4 linked regions of the Homo sapiens genome follow. The protein of the gene in region 3 interacts with the protein of the main gene of each other region in a pairwise test. Each region holds a gene or a part of one and is shown on either strand. Other genes may lie near its edges.

Evidence for each region.
Region 1: the proteins of PRDX1 (region 3) and TPT1 interact in binary tests that used the Homo sapiens proteins (3 or more experiments, as listed by UniProt).
Region 2: the proteins of PRDX1 (region 3) and STK4 interact in binary tests that used the Homo sapiens proteins (3 or more experiments, as listed by UniProt).
Region 4: the proteins of PRDX1 (region 3) and MAGEB6 interact in binary tests that used the Homo sapiens proteins (3 or more experiments, as listed by UniProt).

Annotation. Positions count from the first base shown.
Region 1 is NC_000013.11:45,337,978-45,345,459, forward strand, and holds the start of TPT1 (translationally-controlled tumor protein), read right to left. Parts: upstream 3,207-7,482; 5' UTR 3,093-3,206; coding exon 3,065-3,092; intron 2,809-3,064; coding exon 2,735-2,808; intron 2,208-2,734; coding exon 2,017-2,207; intron 1,626-2,016; coding exon 1,520-1,625; intron 800-1,519; coding exon 683-799; intron 1-682. UniProt on the Homo sapiens protein: Involved in calcium binding and microtubule stabilization. Acts as a negative regulator of TSC22D1-mediated apoptosis, via interaction with and destabilization of TSC22D1 protein.
Region 2 is NC_000020.11:44,990,025-44,997,630, reverse strand, and holds part of STK4 (serine/threonine-protein kinase 4), read right to left. Parts: intron 2,542-7,606; coding exon 2,374-2,541; intron 463-2,373; coding exon 325-462; intron 1-324. UniProt on the Homo sapiens protein: Stress-activated, pro-apoptotic kinase which, following caspase-cleavage, enters the nucleus and induces chromatin condensation followed by internucleosomal DNA fragmentation.
Region 3 is NC_000001.11:45,511,462-45,519,067, reverse strand, and holds part of PRDX1 (peroxiredoxin-1), read left to right. Parts: intron 1-13; 5' UTR 14-24; coding exon 25-130; intron 131-3,260; coding exon 3,261-3,414; intron 3,415-4,072; coding exon 4,073-4,195; intron 4,196-4,430; coding exon 4,431-4,561; intron 4,562-5,685; exon of another isoform or gene 5,686-7,606. UniProt on the Homo sapiens protein: Thiol-specific peroxidase that catalyzes the reduction of hydrogen peroxide and organic hydroperoxides to water and alcohols, respectively.
Region 4 is NC_000023.11:26,187,577-26,195,636, forward strand, and holds the start of MAGEB6 (melanoma-associated antigen B6), read left to right. Parts: upstream 1-4,863; 5' UTR 4,864-4,951; intron 4,952-6,209; 5' UTR 6,210-6,270; coding exon 6,271-7,494; 3' UTR 7,495-8,060.

The sequences.
Region 1 (7,482 bases), on a different chromosome or scaffold from region 3:
GATCAGCTGCCCATTATCAGTAAACCAAAGTGAAAACCACTGATACTGATCCATACGTATACAGCAAAATATGATTATGAAGTGAAAGTGAGGCCATATCTAGAGGAAGATCAATGGTGTTCTCTGATCTCCTTCAGCATTTAAACTCTACTGTATTTTTTTGAGACAGCACCTCACTCTGTCACCCAGGATAGAGTGCAGTGGTGGGATCTCTGCTCACTGCAACCCCCCTCCCAGGTTTAAGTGATTTTCCTGCCTCAGGCTCTCGATTAGCTGGGATTACAGGTGCCCGCTGCCATGCCTGGCTAATTTTTGTATTTTTAGCAGAGATAGGGTTTCGCCATGTTGGCCAGGCTGGTCTCGAACTCCCAACCTCAGGTGATGCACCCACCTCGGCGTCCCAAGTGCTGAAATTACAGGTGTGAGCCACCACACCCAGCCTAAACTGTACTTTATTATGCCCCATCTGCACTCAACGTTTTCCACAAATAAGATTCTAAGCCTTTTTATACCCTAAGAATTTTTTACATATGAAACACAATTCTCTTGATCCCCAAAGAGAAAACTAAAACCATGTTTCAGAACGCTGTAAAACTCATTCTCAGTGTCACAAAACAATTGCAAATCACATCTAAAATGTCTTTTTTACATTATTTATTTTAACCCACTTCCTTGTACTTACACATTTTTCCATTTCTAAACCATCCTTAAAGAAAATCATATATGGGGTCACACCATCCTCACGGTAGTCCAATAGAGCAACCATGCCATCTGGATTCATGTTTTCACCAATAAAGAACTTGGGAAGCAAACAAAATACCTAGAATTAGACTATTACATACAAATACATGCCATTCAAAACAAACTACAGTACAAGGGAAGGTTTAGACCACCACAAAAATCAAAACTTCAGTACCCAAAAGCTCTGATGCTCACTTATCATAGACATCTGTTCACTGGATTAAGGCACCTTAATAGTGACCTAAATAGAAAAATAACGTACAGAGCAATCCAGGAACACTAGGCTTTCAGGAAACCTTTACTCTCAATCCTAAATACAATCCCAAACCCTAAAGCGTGCTTATATAGTCAACCACAGGGAACATAAGGCTGACAGTGATAGAATATATCATACAGTCTGGAAGTATCTTATGGCCAGGGGATGCATGAAGCTGGAAAATTAGAGGAAAGGGAAAGCCACTGACATTTTCCAAAAGTAGAATTAACAAGCTCAGATACATTAGAAGGAGGACCAGTAGCAATGAGACACATTAAAATTGTAAGCAAAAAACTGAAAGAACACTTAGGTGGTTAAGCAATTCACAAAAAGAAAAACTGAGAAATGTCATCTGGGAAGCAAATTTTCAATCAGAAGACAAGATTTGGAAACACCTGCGAGCTGGGAAAGCCACTTTCTACACCTGGAATACTAGTATAGAATTGAAGATTAATCAACTTAATTTTTGCTCTTGCAGTTAAAATTGTACAATCCTTTGATCCAGATACTTAAGGTATTTACCTGGTAGTTTTTGAAATTAGCAAGGATGTGCTTGATTTGTTCTGCAGCCCCTGTCATAAAAGGTTTTACTCTTTCTGGTCTCTGTTCTTCAAGTTTCCCTTTGATTCTAAAACAACATTTCATTAACAGGTTGAAGTATTGAATTTTCAGTAAAATCAATTTTTAAAGTAAAAAATATCCAAGCTTAAAAAAAGAAAACACTGAAAAAGGCAACCAGCTGTTAAGAAATTACTAGTTCACAGAAGGTATCTTTCAAGAATGTTTACATTTCTTGTTGACTATTTTCAAAATACTATTCTAATTCTAAACGGAAACAGACTGCAGGCTTCAGTATGCTCATATTATAGAAAAGCAACCACTCTTTTCCGTGAACTCATTAATAAAAAAGCAAGGACTTTCACAAAAGTATACCCACTGCGAAAGAACCTCAAAAGTTAGCCAATCTTTAAATCCTGTAAGATTCTAGACATCAGCTAGGTACTGCCAGTATCACTTACGATTTCATGTAATCTTTGATGTACTTCTTGTAGGCTTCTTTTGTGAAACTTGTTTCCTGCAGGTGATGGTTCATGACAATATCGACACCAGTGATTACTGTGCTTTCGGTACCTTCGCCCTCGGGGCCTTCAGCGGAGGCATTTCCACCAATGAGCGAGTCATCAATGTTACCTTCTGTCCTACTGACCATCTGCATTAAGAAAAAGCAGTATAATTGCAAAAGACACAAACGCATCCAAAGCACCTTCCACGCCAATAGTTCACGGATAAGAAGTATTCTTAGTTCTTGCTGAAAATAAAAAAAGCACCATTTTGGGAATAAAGTTGTGACCCGTGGATTTCTCAAAACGACCTAACTTAAAAGAGTTGTCTGTTGGCCGGAACAAAAAATGGGGTCATTAAAAAGTTGTTTCCAGTTGCGGGCATGTGATGCCTCCGGTTGGTAAGTGGGGACAGGACAAACACGAAAGGACTCCAGGCTCCTAAGCCGGAAGCATCATGTCCCGGACAACCCCGGGAGGAGGATGGGCGCCGAGGCGGCGGGCCTATTTCCAGGATCAGCTCCGCCTCCAGTTTTCTAGAAAAACCCAAGCCCGGAAAGAGCGTCTCCTCCGCCAGGAGGCGGCGGGGAGGATTGCACAACCTCAGGCGGGGGAGCGGAGGAAACCCGAGCCCGCTCGGCCCGGACTCCCCCACGCGCAGGCCCGACCGACTCACCTTCCCCTCCACCTCCAGGCACAACCCGTCCGCGATCTCCCGGATCTTGTAGATGTCGGAGAACATCTCATCGTCTGCCGGATACACAGAGCCGCCCATCACCGTGCGCCTGGCGCCGCCATTTCCCGCATTTCCCGCGCCGGCGGCCGCACGCGGGATCTGCCCCTCCGTAGCACACCAGAGCTGGGCGCGAGCCCCGGGCACCGACCCCTCCGCGCTCGGCTAAGACCGCCGGCGTCCCCTAGGCCCGCGACGGCTGCGCCTTCCCCGCCCCCACCCGCACCCCAGACCCCCGTGTGCGGCAGTAAGGATAGTGCAGTGAGGACTCACGGCTGATGAGGTCCCGGTAGATAATCATGATGGCGACTGAAGGGAGACGACGACGGCGCTAGCTTAGCACGAGCCTGAAACTCGGAGCGAGCGCGGTGCAGCCGGAGCGGCGCTCGGGGGGAGGGGGGAGCGGGCGGAAAAGGCCGACTCAGCCGCTCCCCAACCTCATATAGAGGGCACGTCCCTCTACGTCATCGCCCGCTGCGCCTCCGGAAGCGACGCAGGCGGTGACGTGGCACGAAGAGCCGCGCGGGGGCGGGGCCACAGCGGGGGCGAGTCGGGGAGGTGAGCATCCGGGGACTTGAGGCGGAGACACAAGGCTCCGTTCCACTGGGCACGCCAGCGGGTAGGGGTGGGGGCGGGGAGGTGCGCGCGCAGCGTGGGAGGAGGCCAACTCTCGGGGCGCTCCCTAGCCCTGGGTGGGTGGAGCGGGGGAAGCGGAGTACGTTGGACCCGGCTCCGCCCTACCCCACGGGGCCGCCTGGAGAGGTGCTGGGAGCTGGGTGGAGCTTAGAGGAATTAAACTTTGGCCCTGCGCCTCGTCCAGCCTAGGTTCCACCCTTTTCTGGGAACGTGAGTATCAACCAAGGTAGGAGAACGTCGCATTTAGGGAGGGTCAGGCCCTCTGGCCTGGGGTAGATCTCGGGACTGCCCGAGGGCCTCTGACAACTTTTCAGCATCTGCCCCAGGGCTGCCCCAGCTGGAGTTTTTGGGACGCTTTTGTGGGGGCACCGCTGAGTCCGGATAGTGGGACCCAAGTCGTCCTGCTCGGCCCCTGGGGAATAATCGTGTGGGGCGCAAGGTCTGTGGGAAGGGACTTGGAGAGGAGGGAAGATGTCACGGGAGTCTGCACAGGGTTTCCATGTGTTCCAATTTTGTCCCATAATTGAAAGCTTGTGGCATTCTGTGGCGGACGGCTACGGAGCTAGCTCTTCCCTTTACTATTTCGCACTTGGTCTTGGAAAAGTATGTTGTCGCTTTAAGATGAAGTTGAAATTTTATCCCTGGTGCTAGAGGGTCACACAAAGGGAGTTTCCCACCTGCCCCACCTGTTTTTTGAAGGACTTTACACCCAATTACTAAGTATTAAAACAAAACAGGTCCTGCATGGTAGCTCATGCCTGTAATCCCAGAACTTTGGGAGGCAACTACTGAAACCCTGTCTCTACACACACACACACACACACAAATTAAAAATTAATTGGGTGCGGTGGTGCCTGCCTGTAATCCCAGCTATTAGGGAGGCTGAGCTGGGAGGATCGCTTGAGCCCGGGAGTTGGAGGTTACACTGAGCTATGATTGCACCACTGCGCTCCAGCCTGAATGACAGAGCAAGACCTTGGCTCAATAGCAAAACAAAACTTCCGTATTTAGTCACATCGTCACATCTTTGGCATAAGGCAAAGATACATGCCAGTATGAAGTCTGAAAGCTTGTTCTATTTCGCAAATATTTTGTGCTTTGTATCCCTTAGAACTAGGATTTGCACCAAGATTCCAATTGTGAACAAGTTCGATCCAGTCCTACTTATAGAAGTGTTCATTCTGGTAAATCAAAGTATCAGACAATTATAATACATTAACAATTGTTCATAAATCCAATAATATAGCATTCAGCAGAGTAAGAATGCAACCCTTGGGAAAGAGCAGGACACAGGATGGCAATTGGAATGATGGAAAAGTCAAAATGCAAGAGCCAAGAAATTAACCCCTTTAAGAAGATGGGGGGACTGGGCGTGGTGGCTCACACGTGTGATCCCGACACGCGCCTGTAATCCCGGCTACTCGGGAGGCTGAGGCAGGAGGATCGCTTGAACCCGGGAAGCGGAGGTTGCAGTGAGCCGAGATCGCGCCATTGCACTCCAGCCTGAGCAACAAGAGTGAAACCCCGTCCTCCCCCACCCCCAAAAAAAGAAGCTGGAGTTCTTGGATGGAAAACTCCAGAGGACATTGGGCAACTGGGAGGAAGCTAAAAAGGGGGGAAAGGGAAAAAAAAAGATGGGGGTCTTGGATGGAAAACTCCAGAGGACATTGGGCAACTGGGAGGAAGTTAAAAATGGGGTGAAAGGGATCCCAAAATAAATGGATATGACACATGGTCAGTGAAGGCTCTCAAACCTCATTTCTGGAATGTATGAGATGATTATCACACATTAATACTGTGTGAACATTTTTTTTCCAGATTATTACAGTATAATTATTTTCTACCCCGCCCCGCCCAGATGGGGTCTTGCTCTGTTGCCCAGGCTGGAGTGCAGTGGCATGATCTCGGCTCACTGCAACCTCTGACTCCCGGGTTCAAGCGATTCTCCTGCCTCAGCCTCCTAAGTAGCTGGGATTACAGGTGCCTGCCACCACGCCCAGGCAATTTTTTTGTATTTTTAGTAGAGACAGGGTTTCACCATGTTGGCCAGGCTGGTCTCAAACTCCTGAGCTCAGGCGATCTGCCCGCCTCGGCCTCCCAAAGTGCTGGGATTACGGGCGTGAGCCACTGCACCCGGCAAGTATAATTATTTTCTTCAGTTTTAATACTTCCAAACTATTCAGAAATATTATCATTGACCCATGCAGTACTCTCAAACATTACTCTCAACTGCCCAATCTCATATTCAGGTCGAAACAGTTCTTTAAGTTTTATAAAAATATAGTCGTGGTGAAAAAAAGTACTGAAGAGTCATGGCACCCTAGATTAAAATCTTGCCTTTGGCCGGGCGCGGTGGCTCACGCCTGTAATCCCAGCACTTTGGGAGGCCGAGGCAGGTGGATCACTTGAGGTCAGTAGTTTGAGACCAGCCTGGCCAACATGGTGAAACCTCGTCTCTACTAAAAATACAAAAATTAGCCGAGCCTGTTGGCGGTTGCCTGTAATCCCAGCTACTCAGGAGGCTAAGGCAAGAGAATCGCTTGAACCTGGGAGACGGAGGTTGCAGTGAGCCGAGATTGCGCCACTGCACTCCAGCCTGGGCAGCAGAGCGAGACTCTGTCTCAAACTACAAACAACAACAAAAATTTTATTGATAAAATTGCGGGCTCTGAAAAGAAAAGATCTTGAACACCCAACCAATGAGAATAAACAGACGGTTGAGAAACAATTTAGTGAATAGTGAACAACTTTATTTAAAATGAAATAAGAATAGAAAAGAAAAATCATATATAAAGGCGAATCACAGTAAAGGTGAGTATTATTTTGTGAAGCTTTTATTTTATTTTTATTTTATTTTATTTTATTTTATTTTATTTTATTTTATTTTATTATTTTTTGAGAATGAATCTCGCTGTGTTGTCCAGGCTGGAGTGCAGTGGCACCATCTCGGCTCACTGCAACCTCTGGCTCCCAGGTTCAAGCGATTCTCCTGCCTCAGCCCCCTGAGTAGCTGGGATTACAGGCACGCGCCACCACTCCCAGGTATGTTTTAGATTTATGTATGTATGAATGTACTAGATCCCACATATATTTCTTCCTGTGGTTATAAGTCAAGTGTTTTGAAATCCATTGACTTGGGCAAATTTTCTTTTCAAATATATTACTTGGCACCATAAACTCTTCAATTTCAGCAAATGATTTTTTTAAATGACCCCAGTGTTTTGTGAATACTTATATTTGACTCTAGCTCATTTGAACAATTTTTGCCAGAAAGAGAAAACAGCCAAATGGAGATCTGGCTTGCTGTGTAGGGGCTGAGAGAAGTGTGATCATTCTGACCCTCTATTAGCAGGAAACTGCTCAACAGTCACATCTTGAAAGTAACTTGAGGCAACTGCAGGAGGGCTGCATGGCGGGAAAGAAATTGCTGAAAACAGGCTGGGTGAGCTGGCTCGTACCTGTGATCCCAACACTTTGGGAAGTGAAGTTGGGCGGATCACTTGAGGTGAGGAGTTTGAGACCAGCCTGCCCAACATGGTGAAACCTCGTCTCTACTAAAAATAATAAAATTAGCCAGGCATGGTGGTAGGCGGCTGTAGTTCCGGCTATTCGGGTGGTTGAGGCCTGAGAATTGCTTGAACCTGGGAGGTGGAGGTTGCAGCGAGTCGAGATTGCACCACTGCACTCCAGCTTGGGTGACAGAGCGAGACTCTGTCTCAAAAAAAAAAAAAAGAAATTGCAGAAAATTTTTCTCCCCTCCCTTTTTCACTACTGTCCTTGACTAGTTAAAAAAAAAAAAAAAGCCGGCTGGGCGTGGTGGCTCATGCCTGTAATCCTAGCACTTTGGGAGGCCGAGGCAGGTGGATCACCTGAGGTCAGGAGTTCAAGACCAGCCTGGCCAACATGGTGAGACCCTGTCTCTATTAAAAATACAAATATTACCTGGACGTGATGGCAGGCGCCTGTAATCCCAGCGACTCGGGAGGCTGAGGCAGGAGAATCACTTGAACCCGGGAGGTGGAGGTTGCAGTGAGCCTAGATAGTGCCATTGTACT
Region 2 (7,606 bases), on a different chromosome or scaffold from region 3:
CAACCTCCTGGGATCAAGAGATTCTCCCACCTCCCACCTCAGCCTTCCAGGTAGCTGGAACTACAGGCATGCGCCACCACACCTGGCTAATTTTTTGCATTCTTTTTGTAGAGACATGGTTTCACCATGCTGGCTGGCCTCAAACTCCTGGGCTCAAGCAATATACCTGCCTCAGCCTCCCAAAGTGCTACGATTACAGGCGTGAGCCACTGCACCCAGCCTGCCTTATACTTCTTTACTATCTCCACGTAGGTGACCTCATGGCATCTTTTGGTCAGCAAGTAAATGAAATGGAGCGAGATGGCATCACAGGGTGATTCATACCTGCAGGAGCTGAGTGGCTGTGGCCCTCTGCTCAGGGCTCTTTACAAGACACTGTTTCACAAAATCTGTAAAGTTATCTGACCATAGCTCTGGTTTTCGGAATGTGGGAGGAGGATTTGTAGGAATCATGAAGATTGCCTGGTTAGAACAAACAAACAAACAAAAAGATCTGGTAAAATAAAAGTAATGCTCCAATAAAAAATACATGTGGAATTACATTTGAAGCTTGGTAAATGATTTTTCACTTACCCACTGAGAAGCTCACCCAAATTCCAACAAAAGTCTAAGCATCTGATGGTTAAAGAACCTGATATATCTCCCTCTCTCCTTTTCCCTCTCTCATATATGGGTCTTGTTCCCTAAACCTCACAACATCAATCAAGCTTTTTTATTATTATTATTTTGGTAACCACAGTACATTGCCTTTCAAAGTAGAAAGGCGAGACCTAAGAGTATCTACATCCTAAAGATAACCTTGACCCCATAGTTGTCAAGTTTCCCTGCCTCTTAAAAGTTATTACCACCCCCAGATGTCAGCAGCAACTACACAATAAGGTCATCAACCAGAAGTCCCAAAAATCACAATGGGGTCATTAACTTCCAAAGTAAGCTAAATCAACGCATGTGTGAGGGGGAAAAATTAAAAATTGGCCCACTACGTTGCAGTTACATTCTACTATGTCCAAAAATAAGACTATTATTTATTAAATTTCCAATTTTAAAAAAGCCATGTTTTTTGAAAAGTAAAACACTATACAAATAAGCAGCTTAAATTATATTCTTTAAATCTAAAATTGTAACTAGTAAATCTCCTCACTCCTTCTCCCAAAAAAGAGGGAGGACTTACCTTGGGAACATGAATTTGTGTAAGTCTTTTAATAGGAGAATTAATTAGTCAGAGAAGAGGAAGAGCTGTGGTAAGGAAGGATGGAGAGGACCACAGAGCCCCTGAGGAAGGCAGGGTTGGCGGGGGGGTGTATTACAACAGTGCTGTGATGAAGGGTTCTGGGACAGTTAAGCCTGGGAACTGCTTAGGGTGTGAGCACTGGAAGAGCTTCACTGGAGATGCATTCTATGGGCCCTTAACATTCTAGAAGGAGACAGGGGTTGGAGAGTACACAGCCTCCAGATGAAGAGGATATGGGGATCTACAAACCAAAACTTACAAATTCAAAACACCTATAGGGGCCAGGCAGAAGAAAGATAAAAAATGAACAAGGCTGGGTTTCAGTGACATGAGTTCAAAAATACAGTTTGCTTTCTTCTTAACACTATTATAAGAAAAACATTAGAGAAATACTGTAATAAGTGGCAGCTAATACTTGGTGACACAACAGGGAATCATGGAGACTGATAAAGTAGAGAGTTCATACTCTGAACCACTACTCAGCTCTAGTGAATGTTGACATGTTAAAATGTGGTTGTCTAAACTATTCAAAATGAGTGAGTGACAGACAGAGAGAGAGAGTAGCACAAATCAAACTAAGCATTTCTATGGCCTATGTCCTGCCAGAGGGCTATCAATACACAACCTCTGGAATGGAGAGGGGTGGAACACACTTAAATTAATTAATGACTACAACTAGAGTCAGTAGAGGTGTATCATCTATAGCGACACTTACAAATTTACACATAATTCATTTATTGTTTGCAACTTAAACAAGTAAGCCATTGAACTTTTTTTTTTTTTTTTTTTTTTTTGAGATGGAGTCTCACTCTCTCTCCCAGGCTAGAGTACAGTGTCACGATCTCAGCTCACTGCAACCTCTGCCTCTGGGGTTCAAGTGATTCTCATGCCTCAGTCTCCCAAGCAGCTGGGATTACAGGCGCACGCCACCACACCCAGCTAATTTTTGTATTTTTAGTAGAGACAAGGTTTCACCATGTTGGCCAGGTTGGTCTCAAACTCCTGACCTCTGGTGATCCATCCACCTCAGCCTCCCAAAGTGCTGGGATTACACGTGTGAGCCACAACACCTGGCTTGAACTTCACTTTTTAATGATGATCAGTAACTAACCACCCCACTGGCTTTCTGTCCACTTTCTTACCCTCATTGGATGGATATCAGCATAAGGGGGCTTTCCTTCAGCCATTTCTATGGCAGTTATTCCCAGGGACCAGATGTCTGCTACACAGTTGTATCCAATTTCCTGAATCACTTCTGGAGCCATCCAAAATGGTGTTCCTATCACTGTATTCCGCTTGGCCATGGTATCCTAAAATAGAAAGGGAGAGAGACTGACACTAAGCTTAAAACTACTGAGATGTCCACAGAGGAAGTCTACAGAGAAAAAAAGAAGAAAAAAAAAAAAACTACTGAGAAAAAGAGGCTTTTCCAACAATAAAAAAATGCCTTGTACTTGAAATACATATAAAAACCATACTCTGAGCATGATCAAGCAGGCATAGAAGAAATTCAAATGACAAAGAAACACAAAAAGATTCTCAATCAATTATTAAAACAAAAACTAAAATGACTGACAAAAAATTTTAAATTAATAATTAATGCTGATAATAGCATAGAAAATCAGGCACCGAAATAAAATGTTACTGTAGTATAAATTGGTACATTTTAGTACATAAGTTGGCAATATTTATTCAACTTTTAAATATTCATATCCTTTGATCCAAATCTATTTCTTGAAATCTATCTTATGTTCAAGTATCTCAAACGATATGCACAAAGACTGTAGAAATGTCTGTAATGGGGGAGATGAGGAGGAAAAGGAAACAACTCAAATGATCATCAAAAGATAGTAAGTTAAATATAATAAATAACCATATACTGAAACACCATATTAAAAAGAAAAAAAAAAGAAGATATATACCTTTTCCTAGCATGAAAAAAATGCACAACATACATTACAAAGCAAAAAAAAGTTGTACAATTATATATAATATAGCCCTGTTTTTGTAAAAGGAAAATATATATAATAATGATGATCATAACAATAATAAAACAATAACCAATAATATGAAACACTGTTATATCATAGCACAAAAAATCTGGAGTAATACACACCAAACCATTAATTATATCTAGTAGGCAGAATCACTAAAGATTTTTACTGTCTATCCTGTATACATCTGTAACATTCTGAAGGTTTATATGAGCATACATGTGCAATAAAAAAATTTTAAACTTGATATATAAAAAATAATATACAAAATATCTTAGTTTATGGGCTAAAGAAGAATATGTGGATACAGTACACATTACAGCAAATAACCACTTGCATACTTTCTCAGGATGGCATGGCCCTACTGAAAGAGAACCTCCCTACAGTTCCTATGCTTTAGCAAAAGAAGGATTTTTTTTTTTTTTTTGAGAAAGAGTTTTGATCTTCTGCCCAGGCTGGAGTGAAGAGGCACAATCTTGGCTCACTGCAACCTCCGCCCCTGGGGTTCAAGCGACTCTCCTGACTGAGTCTCCCAAGTAGCTTGGATTACAGGCGCCCACCATCATGCCCGACTAATTTTTGTATTTTTAGTAGAGACAAGGTCTCGCCACATTGGCCAGGCTGGTCTCAAACTCCTGACCTCAGGTGATCCACCTGCCTCGGCCTCCCGAAGTGCTGGGATTACAGGCATGAGCCACAATGCCCAGCAAAAGAAGAATTTTTAAACAGAACTAAATACGAAAAAGGACTTCCGATCATCATCACTGATATTCCTTCTGAAATGCCTGTGATTTAGGCTATGCCAGTCAGAAGCAAATGACAGGTCATTTAAATCAATCTCATTGTCAGTCCTATGTAAAAAACTAACACAGGAACTAACTTACTGCTTAGTCATTTCCTTAGCTCTGAAACTTCAAATTTGCAAGGGTGTTTTCAAATGGTGATAGTCAAAATTGTTTTCACTGGATTATTTCAATTAGAAATGGTTACTTGGATAGCTAGAAAGTTTTTGAAAATTAATAAGAGCAATGAGTGTACACTAACCCCACTTAGATTTGTATTATAAAGTTATATTAGTACAATAGCATAGCAATAAAAAATATAAAGTCCAGAAGTTCACTATGGCATATGTGTATATGTATGTGTGTGTGTACATATATATCATATATATGTATATATAATAACCTGTTATATATACCACATATACATATGATTTATGATTAAAATGTCATTTAAAATCAGCAAGCAAAGAATAGATTATGAAAAAAAAAAGCACTGGGAATCTAGTCATTTGTAGAACTCTACACTTAAATGCCTACCTTATACTTTCACCAAAATAAGTTCAAATAAGTTGAAATTTTAAACATAAAAAACAAAGCCCAACGAATACTTTAAAGAAGTACATTAGACAGTCAGGCACGGTGGCTCATGCCTATAATCCCAGCACTTTGGGAGGCAGAGGTGGGCAGATTGCCTGAGCTCAGGAGTTCGAAACCAGCCTGGGAAACATAGCGAAATCCCGTCTCTACTAAAAGTACAAAAAATTAGCCGGGTGTGGTAGCAGGTACCTGTAATCCCAGCTACTCGGGAGGCTGAAGCACGAGAATCACTTGAACCTGGGAGGTGAAGGTTACAGTGAGCCAAGATTGCGCTACTGTCCTCTAGCCTAGGTGACAGAGCGAGACTGTCTCAAAAACAAAAAACAAAAAACAAACAAAAAAAAAACAGTACATTAGCCAGGCATGGTGGCACATGCCTGTAGTCCTAGCTACTTGGGAGGCTAAGGTGGGAGGATCACTTGAGCCCAGAAGTTCAAGATTACAGTGAACTATGATCATGCCACTGCACTCCAGCCTGAGCAACAGAGCAGGTGTGCTGGCTTATACCTCTAATCCCAATACTTTGGGAGGCAGAGGCAGGAGTTCCGGACCAGCCTGGGTAAAATAGGGAGAGCCTATCTCTATAAAAAATGTTAAAATTTTAACTGGGCGAAGTGGCACACACCTGTAGTCCTAGCTACTTGGGAGCCTGAAGCAAGAGGATTGCTTGAGCCCAGGAGTTTGACACCACAATGAGCCATGATCATGCCACTGTACTCCAGCCTGGGTGCCAGGGCAAGACCTTGTCTCAAAAAAAAATAAAATAAAATAAAATAATAAAAAATAAAAAAAACATAGATTAACCATTCTATAATGTTAAGGAGAAAAGGATTTTTTAAGCATGACATCAAAGATAGAAACCATAAGATAAAAGGTAGATGGATTTTTCTATATAAAATTTGGAAACTTATGTAGTATTTTTTTAAAAAGCCATAATCAAAATTAAAAGACAACTAGTAAACTAGAAGATATTTCAGCATATACAAAATAGGAGTAACAATTTTAACATAAATTTTTTTAGTTTATCTTTTTTAATAAGATTTATTTAAAAGATGCAACACTCAGCCAGGCACAATGGCTCAAACCTGTAATCCCAGCACTTTGGCACGCCAAGGGGGGCAGATTGCTTGAGCTCAGGAGTTTGAGACCAGCCTGGTCAACATGGTGAAACTATGTCTCTACAAAAACTACTAAAAATTAGCTGGGGGTGGTGGTGTGCGTCTGTAGTCCCAGCTACCCAAGAGGCCAAAAGTGGGGGTATCACCTAAGCCTGGTGGTTGAGGCTGCAGTGAGCCGTGATTGTGCCACTGCACTCCAGGCTGGGTGACAGAGCAAGACCCTGTCTCCCAAAAACAAAAAAAAAAAGTACAACATTCAATTAGGAAAACTGACACAAAAATGAACATTTACAAACGAATTTTTATAAATGGCCAATAATTAAATGCAAAAATATGTCAACTGCTTTGAGAAATAGCAGGGAAGATACAAGTTGCTGCCCATTCAGCATTAGCAAATATGAGGGGAAAAGAGCACATTTATATACTGAAGTTGGAAACTGAAACTGTTCACTTCTAGAAGAAATTCAGCACTATGCATCAAAAGCACTTTGCCAATATACATTCACATATTTTCTGACCTAGATTCCAATGTAAATAAATTATCCTAAGGATTTACTCAAGGAAATGCTGAAAAATTTAGTTGCAAGAATGTTAATCACAGAGTTTATGTTTATAGTGGTGGGAAAACTCTAAGCAACCTTAATGGGCACCCAACATCCAACTGTAGGGAAAGAGTTAAATAAATCATGCTATATCCATACAATGAAATACCCATGTTGCCACCAGAAATAATATTACAGAGTCTTGGGTAAAGATGACAGCTTGAGCAAATACATTTTACTTTCACTATCTCTCAAAACTCACTCAAAAAGATACTAAAAGGATTGTTTTTTAAGAATAAATCTACAAGAATAAAAAAACAAAGGGGAAAATAACTACAGCCACAGAATTTTAAAAGCTGGAGAGCAGATGGCCCAATAGTAACTAACTGAACAGACTATCAGATGGAATCCTCAGTCAGTCGCCAGGAAAACTAGGAAACAACCTGATTTTAACACCAACCCCTCCAAAAGACTTAGAAATTGGTGGCATCAGGCAGAGAAAAGAGGGGTGAAAACGGACATCCAAATAGGAAGCCTGGGTTGAAAGAGTTAAGAAGCAGCTAAGCACCCTAAACCTTCCTCTCCCATCAAGCAACTAGTGGGCTTCCCTCGCCCCACCCTGGCATTAGACTGGAGGTGTACTCTCTGGGGAGTGAAACCGAGGATCTCTAGACTATAGAGAGTGTGGGTGGTGTTGTGAATCAGGAACATTAAATGAGCATTAACATGTTAACAATCCCCACTGCCACCACCACCACCACTTCCCAGAAAGCTGCCAACAAGGCCTACAGCCTCTAGACAAGAGACCGGAGAGGGGCCTAAACTTAGTAGTACTGGAGGTTTCACAACCAAACAGCCAAGTCAGATCATCTTGTACTACAGTTTCAGTTTATTTTAGTGAAGGAAAAAAAATCTCATTTTTTTTAACAAAACAACATACATGTTCACAGTTAATTTAAAAAAAAAAAAGTCCAGCAAGGTGCCAGGACACAAGATAATATACAAAAATCAATTGTATGTTACACTAGCAATGAACAATCTGAAAATAAGGCAAATCCATTTAAAATAGTATCAAAAAGTACAAACTACTTAGGAATGAATTTAACCAAATACATGCAAAACTTGTACACTGCAAATTATAAAACATTGCTAAAAGAATTAAAGAAAATCTAAATAAATGGAAAGACAGCTTATATTCATAGATCGGAAGACAATATTGCCAAAATGGCAGTATTTTCAAGCTGATTTACGATTCAAAATAATGTCTACCAAAATCCCAACGGCCTTTTCTGCAGAAATTGACAAGCTGATCCTAAAATTTATGTGGAAATACAAGGGACCC
Region 3 (7,606 bases):
CTGTTATTTCTAGCTGATAGGAAGATGTCTTCAGGAAATGCTAAAATTGGGCACCCTGCCCCCAACTTCAAAGCCACAGCTGTTATGCCAGATGGTCAGTTTAAAGATATCAGCCTGTCTGACTACAAAGGTGAGAGAATTAACACTGGGCTCATTGAGATGGAGTTATTTTATATTCTAGGGGTGGCTTGTTAGATTTGTGTCAATGTTGTTTGACTGTAAAATGTTTTGTCTCCTAGGAAGAAGTATTTAGGTTGTTACCTTCATGTTGAAGTGGTGATTATCAAGTGATTACAGGGTATATATCCTAGGACCAAACCACTTCTGGAGAAACCACATGCTTCATTATGTCTGGACATACTAGCTCAATTATCTTTTCAGTATTCCTCGTCTATTTTCTTTCTTTATTTTTATTTTTGAGACAGGGTCTCATTCTGTCACCCAGGCTGGAGTGCAGTGGCGCAGTCATGGCTCACTGCAGCCTCTACCTCTCTGGGCTCAGGTGGTCCTCCTACCTCAGCCTCCCAAGTAGCTGGGACTGTAGGGGCATGCTGCCATGCCTGGCTAATTTTTGTACTTTTTTTTTTTTTTTTTTTTTTTGAGATGGAGTTTTGCTCTTGTTGCCCAGGCTAGAGTGCAATGGCGTGATCTCGGCTCACCACAACCTCCACTGCCCAGGTTCAAGCAATTCTCCTGCCTCAGCCTCCCGAGTAGCTGGGATTACAGGCATGCGCCATCATGCCTGGCTAATTTTTTTTTGTATTTTTAGTAGAGACGGGGTTTCTCCATGGTGGTCAGGCTGGTCTCGAACTCCTGACCTCAGATGATCCGCCCACCTCGGCGTCCCAAAATGCTGGGATTACAGGCATGAGCCACCACGCCTGGCTTAATTTTTGTACTTTTTGTAGAGCTGGGCGCCATGTTGCCCAGGCTGGTCTCCAACTCCTGGGCTCAAGCCCTCTGCCTGCCCTAGCCTTTCAAAGTGCTGGGATAACAGGTGTGAGCCACTGCCTCTGGCCCTCCTCTATTTTATTATTGGAGAAATACTCATTATCTCTTGTTATAAGAGACATTCTACATTTAAAGTCTCAGAGCTCACTCAAATCTCTGGAGCTGTGACACTGCTCGTTCAGTTTGTTTGGGTCACGTATATATCACAGCTGTTAATATTAGGCTGAGGGCTAGGCACTTTCCCTTGCCTGTTTTGACCCCGGAGGAGAGTTGATATTACAGATGGAACAACTCTCCTTTCTGTTGTCATAGTTTTTTTTTTTTTTTTTTTTTTTGAGACGGAGTCTCGCTTTGTCGCCCAGGCTAGAGTGCAGTGGTGCGATCTCAGCTCACTGCAAGCTCCGCCTTCTGGGTTCATGCCATTCTCAGGCCTCAGCCTCTTGAGTAGCTGGGACTACAGGCGCCCGCAACCATGCTTGGCTAATTTTTTTGTATTTTTAGTAGAGACGGGGTTTCACCATGTTTGCCAGGATGGTCTCGATCTCCTGACCTTGTGATCCGCCTGCCTTGGCCTCCCAAAGTTCTGGGATTACAGGCGTGAGCCACTGCGCCCGGCCTCTGTTGTCATAGTTTCATGCAGACACTTGGCAAGTTCTGTTGAGGCTCCTCCTTTCTTTACCTTGTAGTTCCAGAGCAGCTCGATCTCCTGGGACAGTTGAGGATATAGATTCCTTAGAATGCTAACCTGAAACTCAGGTGTCAAGTGTCCTTTTCTCAGTGGTGTAGCATTAGTCCCTGGAGTTAGTTTTTGGTAGAACATTTGACTAGGTTTCCTGACATAATCACACTTTGTTCTTGGGGCTTCTCCCAGCAAACAAGGTAAGTTGCACCATAGGGAGGTGACCTGGGCCCAGGGGTATAAGCAGGAGGTCTAGGAGGAGCTGTTCTCTGCCCTCCAGAGCTTGACCTGCTGAGGCCCCAAAGTGCTTGTTAGGCAAAGCTGGAAGGGTTGTTTAGATGAGTTAGTTTCCAGTGATACTGCAAAGTGGTAAATGTCAAAAAGGGCTGCTTGTTTGGCTTTTTTTTTTTTTTTTTGAGGTGGAATTTTGATCTTGTCGCACAGGCTGTAGTGCAGTGGCATGATCTCAGGTCACTGCGACCTCCATCTCCCCGGTTCAAGTGATTCTCCTGGCTCAGCCTCCCCAGTAGCTGAGATTTCAGGCCCCCGCTGTCACACCCAGCTAATTTTTGTATTTTTAGTAGAGACATGTTTTACCATGTTGGTCAGCCTGGTCTTGAACTCCTGACCTCAGGTGATCCACCCGCCTCGGCCTCCCAAACTGCCTCCCAAACTGCTGGGATTACAGACGTCAGCCACCATGCCACCACACCCAGCCTGTTTGACTTTTCAAACATTGCTGCTACCTGGAAATGAGTGAATATTTGGAATTGTTCTAGTATTTAAGCCTGGTGGGTGTGGCGAGAAGGCTGCCTGGCCAGTTTGAAGATCTGTTATTTCAGTGGTTAATCCCAGTGACTTCATTAAAATTGCAGCTAGAAGTTCTGTTACTCACTAGTACTTTTGTCTTTTCTGTCTCTCTCTGTCTCCCTCTTTCTCTCTCTCTCTCTGTGTATATGTATATATATATTTCTGTTGTTTTGAGACAGTCTTGCTGTGTTGCCCAGGCTGGCCTCAAACTCCTGGGGTCAAGGGATCCTCCCACCTCAGCCTCCCAAGTAGCTGGGACTACAGACACGCACCACTGTGCCTGGCTTAAAATTTTTCCTGTCCTGTCAGGCACGTTAGGAACACATGTGATCACTTAAACCATGCTTGTTCCATTACTATGGTTCATCACGGGAGAAGTGCAAAGGCTGTGACTTCTTATTGGTGTCTTATCTCTACAGCAGAGGAGTACTGCAATTCAGCTTTCTCTGGGTATTGTTAAGCATTGGCATTAGGCCATGCTTATAAGTGCATCCTTGCTTTTGCTATCTTTGGAGAACTTGGTGTTTATGTTAATTTTAGCCACTCAGAAAAGATCAAAATTAGACTGAACAGTGTTTACTCTGTATTGGTAGCTATGACATGGAGGCAGGAGAATAAAGTATGGGATTGGAAGTTTTTTTCATTCAGGTATTCCTAATGCACCAGGTTCTAAAAGTAGCTTCTAGGAGACATCTGTATTGAGCATCTTGGCAGTTAGTGGTTATTGTGTCAGCCATCAACTTGCTTCTTTTTGTATAGGAAAATATAAAGCAAGGAAGTCTGTGTCAAATGCTAACCATGACTCCGATTTTCCCCCCAGGAAAATATGTTGTGTTCTTCTTTTACCCTCTTGACTTCACCTTTGTGTGCCCCACGGAGATCATTGCTTTCAGTGATAGGGCAGAAGAATTTAAGAAACTCAACTGCCAAGTGATTGGTGCTTCTGTGGATTCTCACTTCTGTCATCTAGCATGGTAAATCTCTTGGTCTATTTGGCATGTGAACTTTTTTTTTTTTTTTTTTTTTTTTGAGATGGAGTCTTGCTTTGTCGCCCAGGCTGGAGTGCAGTGGTGTGATCTCCGCTCACTTCAAGCTCTGCCTCCCAGTTTCACGCCATTCTCCTGCCTCAGCCTCCTGAGTAGCTGGGACTACAGGCGCCTGCCACCATACCTGGCTAATTTTTTGTATTTTCAGTAGAGACGGTGTTTCACCGTGTTAGTCAGGATGTTCTTGATCTCCTGACCTCGTGATCTGCCCACCTCAGCCTCCCAAAGTGCTGGGATTACAGGTGTGAGCCACTGCACCTGGCTGGCATGTGAACTTTTAAAACAGCAACTGGGAAGCTTTGGCAATAGACTTTCAAGTATTGCCTTCTCATTGAAGGGAGTGCAAAGTCTGACTTTCTCTTATTGCTCTCATGACCTGGCAGCAGAGAAGAAGCAGCTTCAATTGCAGTTGAGTGTACCCTAGTGACCTACCTTAACTGTTCTCAGCATTCACTTTATTGCTGGAAAACGGAAAAAAAACAGTCTTTTTGGAAAGTTAGATTAGGAATATGGGAAAGGGGAAAGAGGAATGCGTACAGTCAAGTCAAGAGTTTGAATGTAACTGTATGTTTGCCTTTTGCCATAGGGTCAATACACCTAAGAAACAAGGAGGACTGGGACCCATGAACATTCCTTTGGTATCAGACCCGAAGCGCACCATTGCTCAGGATTATGGGGTCTTAAAGGCTGATGAAGGCATCTCGTTCAGGTATGTCATCAGGACAAGTATCCAGTTGGCTGAAAGCCTTTTATTTGGAGAGATCTAGAGCCCTGATCTGTAGAGACTCCTTGTCATTTCATTCCTTTATGCAGGGGCCTCCTCACTAAGGCCAGGCCAGTAGGAGTGTGGAGACCAGTCCATTTCCTTCAGGCTTCAAGCCTCTGTATTCTAACAAAGCACATCTCTAAACCTGTATTGCTTTTCCTTTCATCTCTTTTCCCAGGGGCCTTTTTATCATTGATGATAAGGGTATTCTTCGGCAGATCACTGTAAATGACCTCCCTGTTGGCCGCTCTGTGGATGAGACTTTGAGACTAGTTCAGGCCTTCCAGTTCACTGACAAACATGGGGAAGGTAAGCCATCTGTCTGATAACAGGACAACAGAGTGGTGGTATGAAGGGGTGGGTTGCCCCTTCACACCTGTGGGTGTTTCTCGTTAGGTGGAATGAGAGACTTGGAAAAAGACACGTAGACAAAGTATAGAGAAAGAAATAAGGGGGCCCAGGGGACCAGTGTTCAGCATACAGAGGATCCCGCCGGCCTCTGAGTTCCCTTAGTATTTATTGATCATTCTTGGGTGTTTCTCGGAGAGGGGGATGTGGCAGGGTCATAGGATAATAGTGGAGAGAAGGTCAGCAGATAAACACGTGAACAAAGGTCTCTGCATCATGAACAAGGTAAAGAATTAAGTGCTGTGCTTTAGATGTGCATACACATAAACATCTCAATGCCTTAAAGAGCAGTATTGCTGCCCGCATGTCCCACCTCCACCCCTGAGGCGGTTTTCCCCTGTCTCAGTAGATGGAACATACAATTGGGTTTTACACTGAGACATTCCATTGCCCAGGGACTGGCTGGAGACAGATGCCTTCCTCTTGTCTCAACTGCAAAGAGGCGTTCCTTCCTCTTTTACTAATCCTCCTTAGCACAGGGTGTCAGGCTGGGGGACCCCGGTCAGGTCTTTCCCTTCCCACGAGGCCATATTTCAGACTATCACATGGGGAGAAACCTTGGACAATACCTGGGTTTCCTAGGCAGAGGTCCCTGTGGCCTTCCGCAGTGTTTGTGTCCCCGGATACTTGAGATTAGGGAGTGGTGATGACTCTTAAAACGAGCATGCTGCCTTCAAGCATTTGTTTTAACAAAGCATATCTTGCACAGCCCTTAATCCATTTAACCCTGAGTTGACACAGCACATGTTTCAGGGAGCACAGGGTTGGGGATAAGGTTACAGATTAACAGCATCTCAAGGCAGAAGAATTTTTCTTAGTACAGAACAAAATGGAGTCTCCTCTGTCTACTTCTTTCTACACAGAGACAGTAACAATCTGATCTCTCTTTTCCCCACAGTGGTAGAATGGGAAAGATAGTAGGAACAGAAGCTACCAAATAAGAAAATGGGTATCTCTCTTCATAAATTGAAGCCCCTGGATTACAGTGTGTTGTGAGGGTGAGGGTAATGGAAAAGCTTGGGAAGGAGAATATAAAGGCTTTTTATTCAAAGTATACATACTCCTCTCTTCTGTCCTGCTCATTTAGAATCAGTCACTCCCAAAGATCTAACTTACTGAATGTAGGATGATCTCACAGATGTATTAGGGCAAAACAAAATGGTTGGGAATCACCTCTAGAGATAAAGCATGCCATTTTTTAAATAACTTTATTGAGAGAAGAGGTTAATCCATATAGTTCATATTTTTATTTATTTATTTATTTTTTGCAAGATGGAGTCTTGCTCTGTTGCCCAGGCTGGAGTGCAGTGGCGCAGTCTTGGCTCACTGCAACCTCCGCCTCCCCTGAGCCATTGCGCCCAGCCCAGACTAGCTTTCTAAGGCCTATTTCAGCTCTGATCTTGTAATTTAAAGGAAATGAAGTTATTAGAGTCTGGATTAGTGGTGTATGTTTGGGAAGACCCAAAGGTGCTAGCTTGGCTAGCACCAAGTAATCTTTTTACAGGGATTAGAGTCTGATTATATAGGGATCAGTGAGCACTGATAACCAAGAGGTACCCTTTGCAGAAGGATGTGTGGGCAGTTAGCCTGGACAGATGACACATGGCTCAGCTGACACCTGCTGAGACTGCCCCCTTGTGGGAGATGAGGTTCAGCATTAAGAAGGAGGCAGCAGTGGCAAAGTAGGCCCTTTAACTGGACTTTCCTAGGAACCTACATATAGGTTAGTCTCCTGAACCCAGGCTTTCATAACTCAGAAGCTTGCTTCTTCAGACTCTGTTGGTCTCTGCTGCTTCCCATCCCACTGGAACATGTACAGCCTCTTAAATAGGTACCATTTAAGAGCCAATGAATGCCAAACACTTTTTTTTTTTGAGACAGAGTCTTGTTTTGTCGCCCAGACTGGAGTGCAGTGGTGTGATCTCAGCTCACTGCAGCCTCCACCTCCTGGGTTCAAGTGATTCTCTTGCCTCAGCCTCCTGAGTAGCTAGGACTACAGGGGTCCACCACCACGCCCCACTATTTTTGTATAGTCCCAGCTACTCGGGAGGCTGAGGCAGGAGAATGGCATGAACCCCGGAGGTGGAGCTTGCAGTGAGCTGAGATCGCGCCACTGCACTCCAGCCTGGGCGACAATGTGAGACTGTCTCAAAAATTAGCCAGGTGTGGTGGTGGGCGCCTGTAATCCTAGCTATTTGGGAGGCTGATGCAGGAGAATCGCTTGAACCCGGGAGACCGAGGTTGCAGTGAGACGGAGGTGGAGATTGCGCCACCGTACTCCAGCCTGGGCAACAGAGGGAGACTCCATCTCAAAAAAAAAAAAAAAAAAAAAAAAAAAGAAAAATAAGAGATTAGTCCCCTTGCCTCATTTTCTTCAGGCTAGCCTGAGGCACATTCTTAGGCATTGTCAGGAAAAGGTTGAAGGCTGTGCTTTCTGTATAAATCTATGAAAAATTTCAAACTCTGCCTTTTGCTTACCAAGGGGTAGATGGCAGTTACTTAATGAAACAAGCGGGGGCTTCTGTTAAGTTCTTGATCCTTTATAAGGTTCAGGCTATCCAGTTTGGTAGAGTTAGAAGAATGCTGAGAAGGCAGACTGAGTTTGCTGTCTTCAGAGCTCTGAAGGGCTGTCAGAAACAGTTTAGTGTTAAGGGTTTACATAGTCCTATGTGTGTCGTTTATTTAGCTTTTTTTTCCCCTTAAGGATTAGAGAGTGTTGGCAAATTATTTAAACTTTGCCTTTTTTTGTGGAAAATTTAAATTTCAAGTGCTACATGAATAAATTAGGCATGATAGTATCTTAAGGCTGTGGTGATGATTATATGTTTGTAAAATGGTTAGCTCATACTAAAAGGGTGAATGATCTAAGACTGATTGCAGGGGTAGGTTTCCTGGTATCTGAGTGTTCAGGTGCAGAACTGGTTTTGTCCATAGGAGAATGGTGGT
Region 4 (8,060 bases), on a different chromosome or scaffold from region 3:
AAGGAATGTTATGAAAAATTCTATGCCCACCAACTTGGTAACCTAGATGAGACAGACCAATTCCTTGAAAGACACAATCTACCAAAACTCACACAAGGAGACTGAGATCATCTTAATAGGCCTATATCTATTAAAGAAATTGAATCAATGACTGATAAGCTTCCAAAAGAGTAAACAACAGTCCCAAATGAGCTCACTGGTGAATGCTGTCAAATCTTTAGGAAGGAATGATATCAATTCTCTACAAACAAGCACAAAGATGAAAAGATGCTTTATATCATGGATCATTAGGGAACTGCAAATTAAAACAACAATCAGATATCACTACACATGTATTAGAGTGGATAAAATCCAAAACACTGACAAGACACATACTGGAGAGGATGTAGGGCATAGAATCTCTCATTCAGTAATGATGGCAGTGCAAAGATGGTACAGCCTCGTTGGAAGACAGTTTGTCAATATCTTACAAAATTAAAATACTCTCGTCATATGATTCAGCAGTTACTCTCCTTGGTATTTAGTCAAATGGGTTGAAAACTGATGTCCACACCAAAACTTGAATACAAATGTTCAAAGCAGCTTTATTCCTAATTGTCAAAACTTAGCAGAAACCAACAAGAATTAAGTGTCCCACAAGCATACAATGAAATATTGTTTAGTGATTAAACAATGTGTTATTAAGCTATGAAAAGACATGCAGGAGCCTAAATGCATATTGCTAAGTGAAAGTAGCCTATTTGAAAAGGTTACATGCTGTAGGATTCTAACTATATGACATTCTGGAAAAGGCAAAATTATGGAGACAGTTAAAAAAAGGGGGGTTCTGGGGGGATGGGGGAATAAGGGGAACACAGTGGATTTTTTTTAGTATAGTGAAACTGTTCTGTATGATACTGTTATAGTGTGTACGTGTCATTCATTTTAAAAAACCCATAAGATATATAATAGAAAGATTAAACTCTAATATAAATGGTTAACTTTAATTAATAAAAATGTATCAATATTAGCTCATCAATTTTAACAAGTATACCACATTAATGTGTGATAATAATAGGAGAAACTGTGTGTGAACCGATGAGAGGGTATAAGAGAATTCTTTGTATTTACCACCGAATTTTTCTGTAAACTTGGAAACTGCTCTACAAAATAAAGTATGCCCATTAAAACTCCATCCCTGTGTTATATATTTAGAGTAGTTTGTTTTCCTGGAATAACCCATGAATATTTGCAGTTAGCTAATTATTTGTATTGATTTTCTCATCTGAAGCTCTTTCAGCCATTAACAATTTTAAGCAGCCATTTTAAGAATGGCTGCTTAAAAAAACATCCATTCTGTCATTAGTAATTAAATTTGCTCAAGTGTCTTCTATCATTAAGTAAAATATAACACAACACAACATACCATGGCTCTTTAAACCTCCTTTAAATAATTCTCTGTTTCTGTCCTAAATAAATTTTACACTCCCTAGTTTTTGTATGCATAAACACACACACAAAATATATACATATATTTATATTTAGATATTGAAAATATTATAGAGCATTAAGAGATATATGTTCAGCTTGTAAAAAAATTGAGCTCTACACATAAAGTTCTATTAGCATAATTGTTGAAAAGTAGCCCAAGCAGTACTTATGGGGATATTTATTGCATTAAATAGATTTACTATAAAAAAGTTTGAAACATTGTAACAATTCAAGAAGCTAGAGAATGAATAGCATATTAAACACAAAGAAGAAGGTAGGAATAATGAAGATAAATTCAAAAGTGATAAATGAGAAAATAGTCAAACCAACTAGTAAAAGCCAGTTCTTTGAAAGGATTTATATAACAATGTGTATGAGTACCATCAATTACAAATGAAAAAAGCAGAAATAAATGATATTAGATAAGTAAAATTATACAAAACTTAGGTGTAGAAAAGATGTAATACTAATAGAGAACACCGTAAGTGTTATCAAGTATTATCTGTATCTCAAGATAACAAATGATGGACAAGGAGAAGGTTCTATCTGAAAAATTTCGGGTAATAAACTCAAAAGAATTTTAGAATCAGAGAATTACCATCTTGCAACCCATGATAGATTAATGGATAAAAGTGATGGCTGCCAACATCATCACAAAAGAAACAACAGAAATTATATATCTCTTAATGAAACTGCACCATATCACCTCTGGAGTGCACTTGCCAATAAACTTTAATATGAACAATATTCTACTCATAAAAATTGAAGATTATTAGTGACAAATCTTAGCTAATTGAGTTTATTATTCTATTCTCTGTACTACTGCATATATTTGAGAATTTCCATAACAGGATTTTATTATGAATATCATGCTTTTAAATATGAAAACCTAAGTAAAATGGAACAATTTTTAGCAAAATGAAAATGACTCATAAAAATACAGAACTCTTTGAATGCACAGTAGAAAATGAAACTATAGTCCAAACCCAAAGTACCTTCAAACTGTTTTAGGACCAGCCAGGTTTAGAGACCCATTACATCAAATGGTGAAGAAGAAACTAATCACCACTTCATGTAAACTCTTCCAAACAACACGAAAAGATTGGGAGAATTACTCCATCATTTTAACAAGCTTGCTTTCTTTGACACAAAGACCAGATGAAGATAGTCCAATAAAACAACATTTGAGATCAGTTCATTCACATAGAGACAAAATATTCTCAATAAATTCATAGTATATCCAATATAGGCATATCCAATATAGCAGTGAATTAATGAATAAATAGCCTGCATCCAAGAAATGCAAAGATGATACCATATTAGAAAATACCATCAATTGGAAATCACTATGTTACCAAAAATGGTGAAAAAGCATGTGATCATGTGCAGGGGTAAAGGAGAAGCCTTAAAAAACCCTCAATACCAGTGTATGATAGTAACTTTTAGCAAACTTACATTAGGAGAGAATTTCCATCTTGTAAAATCTATAATTGACATACTAAATGTGAAACATTACAAACATCCCGAATAGAGTCCAGAAGAATATACACCTGTATAGTATAAACCCTACTGCTGACAACTGGATGAAAATACATCTATAGTTCACAACTATAATAATAATACCGAGTAAATTAGAGGTAACAATAACAAAAGGAGATAATTGTGATAATATAATCTCCTAATTTAAAAATAAAACAACGTAATTGGTGCAAAAATATTTAAATGTATAAGGAAATAAAGAAAACGTGTGTACAAAAGATCACCATAGGTAAGTCAGGAGTATAGTCACACAAAATCAATAACTAATTATAATATGTAATGTGAAATATGCCTTTCACAACAGCAACAATATCCAAAATATATCTAACAGAAAACCAAATAGAAATGTACATGTTCATTAAGGAGACAGCTATAAAAATTTACTGAAAGACTTAGGAAAAATAAATCTCCAATAAAGCAGTGTACTATGTTTATTTACTGTGGAGGAGATATTGTAAAGTTATTGATTCTCCTTAAATTTTTTACAGATTCATTGCCTTAGCCATAGCTGTGAAGATGACAACCAAACCCGGGTGGTTCTTTCCCATGACCAAACTCAACCATAGAAAAGTTAAAGGAAGAATTTTTTTTTAAAAAAAAAGCAGTATTAACAACAGCAAAACAACAAAAATGCGAACCTTGAGAGATGGTCAGTTTGTATTGAACAAGAATGGGTGTGTGGGCAGGTAGGGGCATGAGCTGAAGTAGAGACAGGTCTGTGGCCTACAACAGACGCAGATAACGGAATTGGCTAGAGGAAAAGCTTTAAAACTTTGGTCTTTGCTTCTTTCACTGTGCCATTGGACAATGCATTTTTTTTTCTGCTTCACTAAAGGAAATTCAGTCAGAAACTTGGACCCTATGTGCCAGTTCCATGGGGTAATATTGCCACAGCAAAAACATCTGGGTAGGCTGAAGAAGTATGAATCCAGACACTGTGCTAATAACTACCTGAAACTTCTTTAGTGGAAGTGGACTGGCCTTTAAATTCGTATTATTTTAATATAATATAAAGAATGGACTAAATTAGGATAGCAAATATTGCAGTGAGTCACACAAGATAATGGTAGAAATTCATTCATGAAGGTGTTGAATACAGACACTGATGTCAGCCAAGAGAGAAGTCCCAGACATAGCTATCAGGCTAAGAAGTCTTCTCACTTTCTCCTTATGAATTTTACAGGATCTAGTCAGAGGAAGGGGATGAATTTACATCAGAAAATGGAGAAAACTGAGACCCTGCCAGCAGTCAATGTGAGGACCCTGAGTGAGGACTGAGGGGCTCCACATATCAGAAGAGACAAGAGTGCCCCCCAAATCTCCCTTCATTCCCCGATCTTGCATCACAACTTAATAGCAGCAGCCAGGTTTAGGAGGCCCCAGGCAGTAGTGGCCAGGTGAGGTGTAACTGAATTGCACATGAGGAGTCTCAGGAAGTTGAAGTCTAGTCTGAGAGGGTGTCCTCAAGTCAGTAGAGGGGACATGGCAAGAATGAAGCGACGACACTGAGTGAGGGCTGAGGGCAAAGTCCATTCCAAAAAGGGGGTCTCACAGAGCTCCACCCCTACTGTCAGTCTTGGAAGGTCCCGGCATGGCTCCCGAGCTCAGGCTGCACCTTACTTCCAACTCTGGACTCTCAGGGAATGAGAGCCTCTATCTCCGGTTGACTGATTCAGCTCAACAGATAGAGAAGTCCAAGGGTCCGCGAAGAGCCCCTGAAAGAACTTTACGTGAGTTCCCTGGAATCTGCTGCACCCACAGAACACAAGGGGGAGTAACAGAGCCCTGCAGCTACTGTTACGCAGGGAGCGCCAGGTGGGCGTGGCCGGAAGTGGTTCCTCTTGACTTCCACCTAATAAAGGGGTCTGAGCCGGTCGCCTGAGCCTGAAAAGTGCTGTCACGTCAGCGGAAGGAGGCGTCCCAGATCTTCTCAGCTGTCTTGGTGGGTATCCTGACCTAGAACGGGGGGCATTCCCCGACAACTTCAACCCCCTTCCCCCGAAGAAAGGCGGCTCCACAGAGCCCTGCCCCAACCTGCCCCGACCTGGTCCCTGAGGAGTCCCCAAACATGGCTGTTAGGCCCAAAGTCCATTCATTTTTTTCCGTCGTGTTGAAGAACATGAAGGCCTCGGTCCAAGGCTTGTGGACCCAGGTCAGTAGAGGGAGAAATCTCAGGCCCTACATAGTTAAGAGGACCCTCCTTAGAATTGAGGGAGGGGATTCCATGTCCCGTAACGGGTTGCACCGAACTCTGCCCTTGACGTTAGCCTGGGGGTCCGGGCAGGTCTCTAGAGACTGAGGTGCATTCTCACTTTGTCCCTGTGAGAGTCAGAGAGGTAGGCCCCTGGTTGTAAGGAGATGGCAGCAGGTCAGTGAGGGTGATTTCCAGGTTGTGGGAAGAGTCAGGGTGAGGAGTCTAATTACTGTGAGGAGCATTCTCACTATAACTGGAAGAGCACTCAAATGCCTCCGCTGTTGTCAGCCCTAGGTGGTCTGGGTGTCCCCGGAATGAAGTGTTGGGCAGAAGTGCTTCCTTATTTCCTCCGGGTTAAAATTCCTACTGTCAATTTCAGAGTGGCACAAGGAAATGGGCCTCTGGGTCTTGTCAACAATTTTTTTTTTATTATACTTTAAGTTTTAGGGTACATGTGCACAATGTGCAGGTTTGTTACATATGTATACATGTGCCATGCTGGTGTGCTGCACCCATTAACTCGTCATTTAGCACTAGGTATATCTCCTAATGCTATCCCTCCCCCCTCCCCCCACCCCACAACAGTCCTCGGAGTGTGATGTTCCCCTTCCTGTGTCCATGTGTTCTCACTGTTAACTTCCCACCTATGAGTGAGAACATGCGGTGTTTGGTTTTTTGTCCTTGCGATAGTTTGCTGAGAATGATGGTTTCCAGTTTTAATGATGATCCTGAATGTAAACAGAGAGGATCCAACCCCTGAACAGAGGGGCCCCCACTGCCAGCCCCTGCTGTCACCTCAGTAAGCCCCAAAATGGGCTGTCATGCTATAGTCTAATACTCTAACTTCCTCCTGAGTTTGAAGGAGACAAACTGACCAGGAGAAAAGGAGTCCTGTGGGTTCCTAGAGCAGCTGTTCTGCGGAAACCTGCAGAAGGGGCCCTAGTTAAAGCCAAGATGGTCGCTCTCTGCTGAAGATATTGACGTGACGTCACTCTCTCCCATCCAGGTGCCAGCCTTCCTAGTCTTCCTACCCACACTCCTACCTGCTGTCACAGGCCACAGCCATCATGCCTCGGGGTCACAAGAGTAAGCTCCGTACCTGTGAGAAACGCCAAGAGACCAATGGTCAGCCACAGGGTCTCACGGGTCCCCAGGCCACTGCAGAGAAGCAGGAAGAGTCCCACTCTTCCTCATCCTCTTCTCGCGCTTGTCTGGGTGATTGTCGTAGGTCTTCTGATGCCTCCATTCCTCAGGAGTCTCAGGGAGTGTCACCCACTGGGTCTCCTGATGCAGTTGTTTCATATTCAAAATCCGATGTGGCTGCCAACGGCCAAGATGAGAAAAGTCCAAGCACCTCCCGTGATGCCTCCGTTCCTCAGGAGTCTCAGGGAGCTTCACCCACTGGCTCTCCTGATGCAGGTGTTTCAGGCTCAAAATATGATGTGGCTGCCAACGGCCAAGATGAGAAAAGTCCAAGCACTTCCCATGATGTCTCCGTTCCTCAGGAGTCTCAGGGAGCTTCACCCACTGGCTCGCCTGATGCAGGTGTTTCAGGCTCAAAATATGATGTGGCTGCCGAGGGTGAAGATGAGGAAAGTGTAAGCGCCTCACAGAAAGCCATCATTTTTAAGCGCTTAAGCAAAGATGCTGTAAAGAAGAAGGCGTGCACGTTGGCGCAATTCCTGCAGAAGAAGTTTGAGAAGAAAGAGTCCATTTTGAAGGCAGACATGCTGAAGTGTGTCCGCAGAGAGTACAAGCCCTACTTCCCTCAGATCCTCAACAGAACCTCCCAACATTTGGTGGTGGCCTTTGGCGTTGAATTGAAAGAAATGGATTCCAGCGGCGAGTCCTACACCCTTGTCAGCAAGCTAGGCCTCCCCAGTGAAGGAATTCTGAGTGGTGATAATGCGCTGCCGAAGTCGGGTCTCCTGATGTCGCTCCTGGTTGTGATCTTCATGAACGGCAACTGTGCCACTGAAGAGGAGGTCTGGGAGTTCCTGGGTCTGTTGGGGATATATGATGGGATCCTGCATTCAATCTATGGGGATGCTCGGAAGATCATTACTGAAGATTTGGTGCAAGATAAGTACGTGGTTTACCGGCAGGTGTGCAACAGTGATCCTCCATGCTATGAGTTCCTGTGGGGTCCACGAGCCTATGCTGAAACCACCAAGATGAGAGTCCTGCGTGTTTTGGCCGACAGCAGTAACACCAGTCCCGGTTTATACCCACATCTGTATGAAGACGCTTTGATAGATGAGGTAGAGAGAGCATTGAGACTGAGAGCTTAAGGCAGGGCTGGCACTATTTCCTTGGCCAGGGTACCTTATGGGGCCATATCCTACAGATCCTCCCATTTCTAGGGAGGTCTGAAGTAGAATTTTCACTTTATGTTAGAAGAGAGTAGTGAGCTTTCTAAGTAGTGCAGTATAGTAGAGGCTGGAGGGAACAAGATATGTATCTTTCTTTTGTTACACATGAGTAACTTGCAGATTTATGTTTTATCTCTGTCAGTTATCAACATTGTTCCTGTTAAGTGAAGGTTTATTTTGCTTCAGATTATACAATTATCAATAACATAGCTCTCACATTCATGGCTGTTTAACCAATCTGAAAGTTACGGTTTGGGAATTAATAAAACAAAGTCATACAACACATTTTCTTTGTAATTGAGAACTAGATAACATGGTAACAGAGAATTGATTTTCATATGAATCTTAACTCCACAGTAAAATAGTTGACATCATAATATGAAGAGAAAGAAAAGGAAAAACAGAAATGTAAAAGTTGTTTAATTCTTGGTTTGCCTAATTCGTTTTCCTATTTCTTTTCATACAAATAAAGGATACCTGGATTT